2 separate regions of the Homo sapiens genome follow, and region 2 is linked to region 1. The links come from fine-mapping of genetic effects on gene expression. A gene starts in region 1. The other region holds a variant in brackets. All regions are shown on one strand. Distances are from middle to middle.

The links.
Region 2: its variant is fine-mapped to the expression of B4GALNT3 in lung (GTEx, PIP 0.93).

The regions. Positions count from the first base shown.
Region 1 is chr12:457,029-462,397 of GRCh38, reverse strand. B4GALNT3 (beta-1,4-N-acetyl-galactosaminyltransferase 3) reads right to left here and starts at 2,459. Exons shown (of 20, transcript NM_173593.4): 1 at 1,853-2,459. The coding sequence starts at 2,021. RefSeq lists an enhancer at 2,308-3,291.
Region 2 is chr12:506,283-511,651 of GRCh38, reverse strand. The region is part of intron 1 of B4GALNT3 (beta-1,4-N-acetyl-galactosaminyltransferase 3); the gene reads right to left. It overlaps LOC124902852 (a long non-coding RNA gene), which reads left to right and starts at 3,482. Exons shown (of 3, transcript XR_007063150.1): 1 at 3,482-3,660; 2 at 3,697-3,804; 3 at 3,877-3,927. RefSeq lists enhancers at 224-870, 1,714-2,287. The variant C/G (reference allele first, on the strand shown) is at 2,028.

The sequences.
Region 1 (5,369 bases):
ACTAGATCCAGGTTTGGGGAGAAAACACACCGGAGGTAAAAGAAAAGTGAGGAGAGGGAGAAAGGGAGGTTACTGATTCCAAGGTCACAAAGCAACTGCCTTTCTCTCTGTTTTTAATTTGTGCACAAGATCCCACTGGCTAAACAAAATGATGGCTACACTGGGAGGAGGTGTCGCCTCCCAGGCCCCCACCCACACACACTCCAAAGGAGCTCATCCATTTGGGCCTGAGTGGCCATGGCGGGGGAGAATAGATTCACTCTCTGTCTTTCAGAAGGAAGAACAAGGCCCAGAGGAGGGAAGAATTCACTATGGGCGGCAGATTTTGGTCATCAGAGGAAGGGGCTCTGCTGCTTGGAGTCGTGGCCCCGGGGTGGAAGCTATGGCTTCCTGGTGATGTGCTGAGCTCTCTGGCCCTGGAAACGCTTGCGTGCAGATCAGTCTTCGTATCCAGACTGAAAGACACCTTGGAGATCATTTGGACCAAAGGCCTCATTTTCACCTGAGAAGCTGTCGTTTTTCCCTTGATTCCCCCGCTAGTTAGTGGCAGAGCCAGTCTCCTCTAACTCACAGCCGGAATGATTTCCATCACCACAGAAAGGTTAGGCCATAAATATACATTTCCAACCTGAACCAGCTCAGCGACTGTCCCTAGTAATTCTCTCTCTTTGGCCACAAGAGAAGGCACAGCACCACACCCAACTCTGGGTAGAGAAGCTGACACGACGACAGGTCAGAGTCAGAGTATCTTCTCAGCTGCTTGCTCAGCCACTCTGTCCGAGTTTCCCCAAAGCGGGAGGAAAGTGAAGGCATGGGAGGCCACGTGCCAGAACTTTGAACCTCGGCTCCCCGGGCTTGCGTTGGGCACCTGGTAGTAACGGGAGTTTCTCCATTTCTTTTCCCAACTATTACAGGATCTTTTACGGCCCCTGTCACTGTCAGTTTTACTTTGTTAGGCCCATCCACAGTACGTTGAAAACCACCTCGCACAGCCATACCTATTGATGTAAAAAGGCAAAGAGACCACGCTCTCCTGTTTTCCTAGGAGGAAACTGAGGCACGGAAATATTAAGTGGCTTTGGCTAAGTTAAAAACAGAAGTAGGAATCTACCTGCTGCCCGGTCCACTGTGCTGTCCATCATCTCCTTAAACTGGGGAGTTTGGTAGATTTGCTCAGGGTTCAGAAAAGTGGCAGAAGGGGCGGCCCGAACAGGAGAAAGAGGGCGCAGCGAGGAGGTGGGAGATTCAAAGAGCCGAGGACGGAGGCTGGGAGAGGAGCGACGTATGGGAAGCGGGGAAGAGACGGGACTCTCCGAGGTATGGTAAAAAAGAACCCCCCTAGAAGATGCAGCAGGAGAGGAAACGGAGTGAGCCAAACAGAAGGCGGTGGGCAAAGTTTGGGCTGCGCGGACTGGAGCGCGCGCCTGGGTGTGGACGGCCGAGGGCATCCCGCACCCGAATCCCTAGCTCGCGCGTGGACCCCACGGACCTCCTCCCCGGGAACCGCAAGCCCGGAGCGGCTGGAGGGGCCCGGTCTCCGCCAGCGTCTCGGCGGGACGGGCGGGGAGCCTCTCTCCGGGTCGCTCTCCGAGGGGAGACGCGAGGAGCCCCCAGGGTGCCCCGGACCCACGTGGCCGGCGGGCAGGCCCGGGCTCGGGAATTCTGCGCTCGGCCCCGCGGCTTCCCCCGCCCGCAGCTCTCCCCGAGTACGCGCGGGGCGACGCCGGGCACCTGAGGGAGAAATGGGTGGGAAATCGGGTCTGAGGATGGGATGAGAGGCGGGTCCCCCCAACGCAGGAGCCGCCGCCGCCGCCCACCCCCGCGCCCTTCGCCTCCCCTGGGTGCTACTTACTCCGGTTCAGGGGGTTCCCGCCGACCTGGGCCGACGCCACCAGTTCCAGATACAGAGTCCAGAGCCCCACAGACACCACGGCGAGCGCCAGCAGCAGCCGGAAGCGCCTCCGCAGCAGCTTCACCGGGCGCAGGAGCAGCGGGGGCCGCGCGGCCCGGGGGCTCCCCATGGCGCTGCGCCGAGGCGGCCGCCGCCAGCGCGGGCTCCAACCCCCCGAGCCGCCGCCCCCCGGCCGGGCCCCGCGCCCAGGGCGCCCCGCGTCCCGGCCCAGCGTCTCAGGGCTGCGCCGAGGCCGTCTCTCCCGGCCGCTCTCCGGCGGGGCTCGGGCTCATGCTCCGGGCGCGAGGGGTCTCCGGGCTGCGCGGGCGCCCAGCAGGTCTCTCCGGGAGCCGAGCCCGGCTCCTCCTCCGCGCGTGTGTTCCGCGCCGGGCTCTCCTCCCCACGCCTCTCCCGTCGCAGGCTCGCTGCCGCCCTCCCTCCCTGCGCGCCCGCCCTCACTCGCTGCCCAGAAGGAGGCTTCCCCGGCGCCCGCCCGCCTGCCTCCGCCCGCGCCCCCGCCAGCCCCGGACCGGGCTCCGGGCTCTGGGCTCTCCTGCTCGCGGAACCTGGCCCGCCCCCGGCCCCGCCCCCGCCCCCGCCCCGGGCACAGGTGGGCTCCGCCCCCGAGAAGCCAGGGACGCGAAGAGGCCATTCGGCTTCCCTAGGGGAGCGAGAGGTGGGGCCAGAGAACTGGTGCCTGGTGCCTCCCCCGACTGGGAACGGGTGGGATGAGGAGGGGGCGAGTGATGATGCGGACTCTGGGTGACCGAGGGAAACCGAGTCACCACCCAGGCGCCTAACGGTGTGGTTTTAGGCAGAAGCGAAGTAGAGGCTGGTTTGGGCGACGCCCAAGGCTTTAGCCTCAGAGCCTTTCGTCGCCAACAGCAACGACCCGACTCCCTGCTTGACGAAACCAGTAGGCGTGAAATATCACGGGAGCCACTGGACGCTTAACGCAGACATAGCTTCGTTTTCCAGTTGAGATTTGAAGACCTTTCTTCCCAGCCTGAACCACATCTCCGAGAGGCGCTGGGGAAGTCGTACAGCCCCCACGGTGAACCCCAGCAAGCAGTTTTCCCCAGACTGGGCTGGAATGGCTGTTTGAAGAGAGTAGGTGTTTGAGGGTTCCGAAAAAGAATTTTAAAAAGAAAAGAAAAGTATTCACTCTTAGAGTTGAAAAGATCAGCAAGATAAGCCAGGCACAGTGGCTCACGGCTGTCGTCCCAGCACTTTGAGAGGCTGAGGCAAGAGGATCTCTTGATCTCTGGAGGTCAAGGCTGCAGTGAGCCGTGATTGCGTCAGTGCACTCCAGCCTGGGCAACACAGCAAGACCCTGTCTCAAAAAAAAAAAAATCAGTATTCCAGTCCTCTGCCTTCAGGCAGGTAAAGCATTATTATCTGATTTAAATTAGATAAAGTATCAAGGGGCAGAATAACTGCCCCAGGTCACTCAGCAAGTTATACTGCAGTTTTCTTTTCCATTATCTCTTCTGGGAAAAATGGTCAGGAGACTATGGGAAAAGTGAAGGATCAAAGTGTTCCTGGACATTTTAAAATCAAATGAATATCACACAAGTACTGTTCCAAGACAGAGGTTCTCACAGAATTGAGAACTATGTTTCCCTTCTCTCTGTTCTCACCTCAGTTGGATATTCAATAGTTTCTACAGGACTTTTCCTAATTAGCCTCCCCAACTCCAAGCTTCCCATCGCATCCTGTCCACTACCACCAGATGGTCTTCATAAAAAGCCAGGCATGGTGACACACACCTGTAGTCCTAACTTACTCGGGAGGCTGAGGTGGGAGGAGTGTAAGGTTGTAGTGAGCCACAATCATGCCACTGCACTCCAGCCTGGGTGACAGAGCAAGACCTTGTCTCAAAAAAAAAAAAAAAAAAAAAAAAATCCCGTATGTAGTCACACACCTGCTCAAAAATATTTAATGGCTTCCAATGCTTATTGATTAAGATACACACTGTAAATCCAGAATTCAGGGCCTTCCAGAACCTTTTCCAACTTTATGTGACCACATGAAACCTGCTCCAGCTAAAACGAGTTTATTCACTACCCTCCAACACATTTTCTTTTCTAGTTGGTCAACTTGTACCCTTTATCCAAGGTCCATTTCAGATTCTATAAAGCTTTCTTGGACCAGCCAAGTCCTAAGCAACTCCTTCCTTTCTGGAGCTTTAGTAGAACTTGCCATCTGTCTCACCATCTGATATGTTGGAACTTACTTGGAGTGTGTGAGTCTTGTTTTCCCAACCTCACTGTAAGGCTTCAAAAATGGGAGCTGCATTTCCAGTGGGTGGTACAATGTCCACTTAGCACTTAGGAAGGTTTGAGGATGGGGGTAGCACTTTGAGCAAACATCTTCCAGAACTTTCACTGCAGTTCTTTAGCAAAAAGGGTGAATCCAAAGGACAATTCTCTAATTGTAGCCCCTGGGAAAGGTCTCTGTGAAGTTCCAAAGCCACAGATTCCTGTACTTCTCATGTTCTTCTTTCTTTCCACAAGTCCAAGATAGGAGCAGCCAGTGTGTGCACGGCCTGTGCAAGCTCGGCTGAGTCAAGTGGGAAGTGACCGGGCCCTGTAAATAGAGTCCCTCTCTTACTAAGGGCAACCCAACTGGATTTTAGGTTGAGTCACTTTTAACACTTTGTCATGGAAACAGGTGGCAGCCTTGCCACAATTCTCTCCTCAAGACTGAGAAAGCTCATGCAATCACTTCGGTCAACCAAATGCTTGAAGCATCTATTATGTAGGAACTGGGAGAGATCTAAAACAAGAAGCATGCTGTTTAGTTGAGGAAAAAAGATAGTCCACAGGAAAAGAAATCTGACAGTTTAAAGGCCAAATTTATGGTCCAAAGAGATTAAGAAGAAGAAGGAGATCACCCTGTACCTCTTGATTTTTTATCCTCCTCTTATTTCTACTTTGTTTTTATAACTTGAGAAGATCATTACTTTTCCAGCTTATGGTGAGAGGTGCCAGGAGTCGAAGAGAAAAGAGGCCAGGACATTCTTGTGGCTCTCCTCTCTCCCTCTTCTGTTCCCTTCTCTTCTGTGGGTGACGCCTTGGCACTGAGATATCCCTCACATTCAGACCCCGCTTTCTCCACATCCCTTTTTGACTCCTGGTGATGTCACAGCAGGGGAAGATCTGAATTTTGAGACCCAAATTTCCCAAATAGCTGAGCTCCAGAACTAAGTATGTGGATTGAGGTATCATGGTGGCATAATATATTGTCACAAATGTCCATTCATTGTCAGTGTCAATTTGCCTGGCTACTCACCAGTTCTTCTGATGGTTTTCACTGTCCTTTCACCCTCCCACTTCAGCTACAGCACCTGACCCAGAATAGCCCAGGGTCACATTGTACAAATTGCACCCAAAAGGAAAAATATTTTCCACCATACACCTGCAATAATGGTAGAAGGGCCCGGTCTTTGCTTGGCCAGAATATCAGAGGCAGAGCA
Region 2 (5,369 bases), 49 kb before region 1:
TGGAAGAAGGTGGAAGGTGGAAGGTCGAAGGTGGAAGAAGGTCGAAGGTGGAAGGCGGAAGGTGGAAGGTGGAAGAAGGTCGAAGGCGGAAGGTGGAAGGTGGAAGGAAGGTAGAAGGTGGAAGGTGGAAGGTGGAAGAAGGTGGAAGGTGGAAGGTGGAAGGTGGAAGAAGGTGGAAGAAGGTGGAAGGTGGAAGAAGGTGGAAGGTGGAAGGTGGAAGAAGGTGGAAGGTGGAAGGTGGAAGGAAGGTGGAAGACAGAAGGTGGAAGGCGGAAGGCGGAAGGTTGAAGGTGGAAGGTGGAAGGTGGAAGGAAGGTGGAAGGTGGAAGGCAGAAGGCGGAAGGTGGAAGGTGGAAGGTCGAAGGTGGAAGAAGGTCGAAGGTGGAAGGCGGAAGGCAGAAGGCGGAAGGTGGAAGGTGGATGGTGGAAGGTACCAAAAAAAACAAAAAACAAAAATTAGCCGAGCGTGGTGGCACACGCCTGTAGTTCAGCTGCTCAGGAGGCAGAGGTGGGAGAATACCTTGAGCTTGGCAGGCAGAAATTGCAGTGAGCTGCCACTGCACTCCAGCCTGGGCACCAGAGTAAGACCCTGTCTCAAAAAAAAAAAAAAAAAAAAAAAAAAAAAAAAAAAAAAAAAAGAATAGGCAAATCCATAGAGACCAAAAGGAGAGTCGTGGTTCCAGTGCTGGAGGTGGGGAGAATTGGGAGTGACTGATAATGGGTGAGGTTCCTTTCTAGGGTGAGGAAAATGCTCTGGAATTAGGTAGTGGCAATGGTTGCACAGCCCTGTGGATATACCAGCACCAGTGAATCGAATACTCAGATGGGCACTGAGAATCTGAGGCTGGCCGACTTATAGCCTCTACTCCTCTTTCCACTTCAACATCTGGGGCTCTCCCTTCTCCCTACTTCCCAAAGCATCTCCACTCCCTGTTTAATTGTGACCATCCCTAGAGGGCTGGCAACAGGTTTCTTTCCAAAGCAGCTCTGCAGGGTTTGCCCCGCCCCTCCCTCTCATACCCAACCCCCTCCTCTTTGTACCCAGACCGTTTACTTATTAAACCAATTAAATTAAATGACTCACATTGCACCCTTGGGCATGAGGCGGGTAAACAGCTCACCAGAGTCTGACTTGCTCTTGAAAGGGCCCGTTTCCCTCCCAGCCCAGCCAACTCCCCTGACCAGCCCCCCAGCGTCCAACCCCCCCATGGAGTGTCTCTCAGGTCACAGTAGGAAGAGGATCGGGGGAGCTGCTAGCCCTTCCCATTGTGCTTTCTCACCCCAAGGAAGGCCACACCCCCTCAAAGAGTTGACACAATAGTCTTCTTATTCCACTGCTTACAAAGCCAGCAGGCAGCTAGCTCAGCATGGCAGAAATCATCTGGAGCCCTCTTGCCCGCCCCTTGCTGCTACATCTTACCCCTACAGCAGCACCAGCGCCATTTCTCTGGGTGCCCCATCCCTGTCAATGCCTGCTTTGAGCTGGATGCTCTGGAGTGTCATGCAGCTAACTAGGTTAGGCAACCTGGGTCCATCGCTCATCTTGCCTGGAGACGAAAGGGAATGGTTCCGATTATTTCTCCAGGCTCCAAGACCTGTGAGCTTTCAGTTCAATGAATGTGGACTGAACTCACTCGGCCATGGAAGGGAACAAAGGTATGCCAAACAAGGACTCAAGGAGGACACAGCAGGTCTCGTAGGGGCGAGTGGATAATTTTAGTGAAATGCAGCAAGGGATGAAACAGGGTATGTGTGGAATAGAGATGTCCTGGCCTCCTCTCTTTCTTGCTCCCACCACCCACAGCACACTTCTCTGCCTTGCTGAGCATGGCACTGGGTGGGGTCACACATTAACAAGTCTGGCAAGATCTTCCCTGGGCCACGCTTAGAATAACCCAGCTCCGCTCTCAGCACCTCCTTCCAAACACCACCTCGGAGGCATCCCTCCTGACAGTCTGGAATCCAGGAGGGAAGTGTGATTTGAGTCAGATCCTGTCCTGGAGTGGAACCGCATGCTCTTGCCACCC[C/G]CCTACCCAGGCATTTCCGGCTTTGTGTATTTATAAGACTCTCTTGAACTAGGTACCAGCAAATAGGAGCAGAGACCTGATTTAGGTCAATGAAATCTGCACTGGGGAGAGTAAAGACACCCTGAGAGCAAGTTGGTATTTTTTCTCCTATTCCGTATCCGGGTTTCAGTATCATTTAAATCCCCTAGAAAGCCTCCCTCTCTTCCCATTCAGTGTTGCTTCCCAAGTTTCTCCTGCCCTGGAAATCTCCTTTCCTCCTGTCCTCTCCACGCGCATGAGTTTCCTAAAGCACAGTGGCTCCAGGCCACCTTCTAATGTTCATTTATGATTAAACAGCTGCATTTTGCAGAGCACTTGTCAGCTGTTAACAAGCCCATCCATCCCCTCCTAGGCGGGATCTGAGCTCTCAAAGGGGGCTGGGGGTGGGGCGAAGGTACAGCAGTAGGTTAGTAGGTGCAGGTGTGCAGGGGTCCTCCGCCCCATCAGCTTCAGACACGTTGTCCATCATCTTTGAAGTGTTGGATGACAGGCAGTGATGGGGAAAGCAGTGTTGTCTGAGTGTGTCTGTCTTAGACACCTGCTGGGTAGGAAAAACCAGTAGAGTGTATCTCCACCACTCCTAAGTGGGGCACCTCCCCAGCAAGGCTGTTAAAGGTATGCGCCTCTGTCCAGGCATGAGTCACACGCTGTCCTGCCAACCTCACAAGGTGCATGAGAGGAAAAGACCCTGGTTCCCTGGCTCCTTACTGAAAAATAATTGTGTATGAAAGGCCTCCTGGGGCACTTTGTAGCATGAGACAAAGAGAGTTGTCTAGTTCTCCCTTACTTCGGCTGAAGTGGTAAGTCTGGGAGGGTCAGTCCTCAAAGTAGTATGTTTGTAATCTCTGCTTGGGCAAGAACAGCCTGGAGCTCTGCTGGAAGGGCCTGTGCAAATCAGAGGTCAGAGGGAAAAGGTAATGGGTGAAGTGTTGAACATGGGGTTTGGAATAGTGACAAATATTAAGTGAGAGGAATAAGGCCGATCGGAGGCTGTGCCCAATTCTGGGGGACATCTGCAGAGAACCAAACCTCGGGTATAATTTAAACATTAAAAAGCTGTTTTATTGCTTGAGACCATGAGTTTGAGACCAGCCTGGGCAATGTAGTAAGACCCTATCTCTATAACAAATTTTTAAAAATTAGCCAGGCATGGTGGCACACACCTGTAGTCCCAGGCACTCAAGAGCCTGAGGTGGGAAGATTGCTCAAGCCTGGGAGTTCGAAGCTGCAGTAAGCCATGATTGCATCACTGAACTCCAGCTTGGGTGGCCTGGGTGATGGAGCAAGACCCTGTCTAAAAAAAACAAAAGTAAGTTGTTTCAAAATATGCACTGGACCTTCTGAGGTAACAGAGACACCTTGAAGGATCTGGAAGCTTTCTCTTCATTAACGAATATGAATTGGATGTCCCCCTAGGGACAGGTCTGGGCTGGCAGGGCCAGCGGAAAAGACAGTAAGAGAAGACATTCTGTCTCCACTGGCTGTGGGACCTTGGGCCGAGTCATTTTTCAGATCTCTTCCAGTTACAATGGATGATCATGAGAAATTTCTTTCACAGGTTAGTATCAACGCTCTACTCAAGCACTCCTGACAGGTGTCCACCAAGCTACTACTGGATTTCCAGGGGCAGGTGTCCACCAAGCTACTACTGGATTTCCAGGGGCAGGTGTCCACCAAGCTACTACTGGATTTCCAGGGGCAGGTGTCCACCAAGGTACTACTGGATTTCCAGGGGCAGGTGTCCACCAAGCTACTACTGGATTTCCAGGGACAGACGTCCACCAAGCTACTACTGGATTTCCAGGGGCAGGAATGTTCCGCATGCCACAGTCACGGGCCCTACAGCTGGAATGCTGCTACCTAGTGCTTTTCTTTGGTAGGGCCTCCTAGAATAAGCCCTACCCTTTTGTGAGAAAGTGCTTCCACCACAGATGTAAACTCTTGTATGTAAACACAGAGCCACTCGCAGGGCGTAGGGTGTGGGGTGAGGGATGTAGGGTGGAGGGCGTGGGGTGAAGGGTCGCCACAACAGCAGTGCCCCAGGCCACGTGGCTCCTTTTCTCTGAGCTCTGTCAGGTCATTTACATCCATGTTCTCTGTTCCCACAGTGTCCAAATTCCAAGACAGTGGAAGCGTCTGTCTAATCCACCAGACAGCACCCAGGCCCAGTGACACTTCCAGACGGGGGCTCTGTGCCAAGGGCAGTGTAAAATGATGGGGTAAAGCCACTCAACAGAACACTGTGGTGAGTTAAAAGGGTGTGGAAGGCCACACACACTAACCCAGAAAGGTGTTCAAAACATATAGTTATGTGAAAAAAGGTTGCCATATATATCACAAAAGTGACACTATCAAAAAAACGCTTAAATCTGTCATGGCCAGTAGGAACTTAGGGAGACCCAATGACTACAGAGGTCTAGGAACAGAAAAGGGATATCTGAAAGGAATTCAGGATACAGTATGAACTTGAGTTAATAATAACATCCGATATTGGTTCATTAATCATGACAAATGTACCGGGGCTTAATGCAAGATGCCAATAATAGAGGAAACTGGGTGTGAGCAAAGTGAGAGCTCTCCAGACTACCTTTGCAATGTTGGGTAAATGAAAAACTATTCTAAAATTAAAAATTCATTTAAAAATGCACTTGGCCGGGCACGGTGGCTCACGCCTGTAATCCCAGCACTTCGGGAGGCCGAGGCGGGCGGATCACGAGGTCAGGAGATCGAGACCATCCTGGCTAACACGGTGAAACCCCGTCTCTACTAAAGATACAAAAAATTAGCCGGGCGTGGTGGTATGTGTCTGTAGTCCCAGCTACTCGGGAGGCTGAGGCAGGAGAATGGCGTGAACCCGGGAGGCGGAGCTTGCAGTGAGCCGAGACCGCGCCACTGCACTCCAGCCTGGGTGACAGAGTGAGACTCTGTCTCAAAAAAAATAAATAAAATAAAAAATAAATAAAAATGCACTTGTAAGTATAGGAGCCTCTATGTGTATGTGTACAGGCATCACAGAGGCATAGAAAACACTTAGAAGGCATATTGAATTTTTTATGGTGCTTACTTCTGTGAAAGCACCTTTTAATATTATATACCTTTGAATTTTAAAAAATAGAAATAAAATGTTTTTAAGTAGAAAAAAGAGATGGAAATGAAAATATAGGAAGATAACAGTTTTAAACTTCTCTGTATTTCATTGTCCCTGTGATTGAAAGAGCAGTGGGCTAGAAGTCAGGAGACCAAGGTTTTGGTCCTTGTTCTTTCACTGGCTTTGTGATCCCAGTGACCTCCTGATCCTTGGTT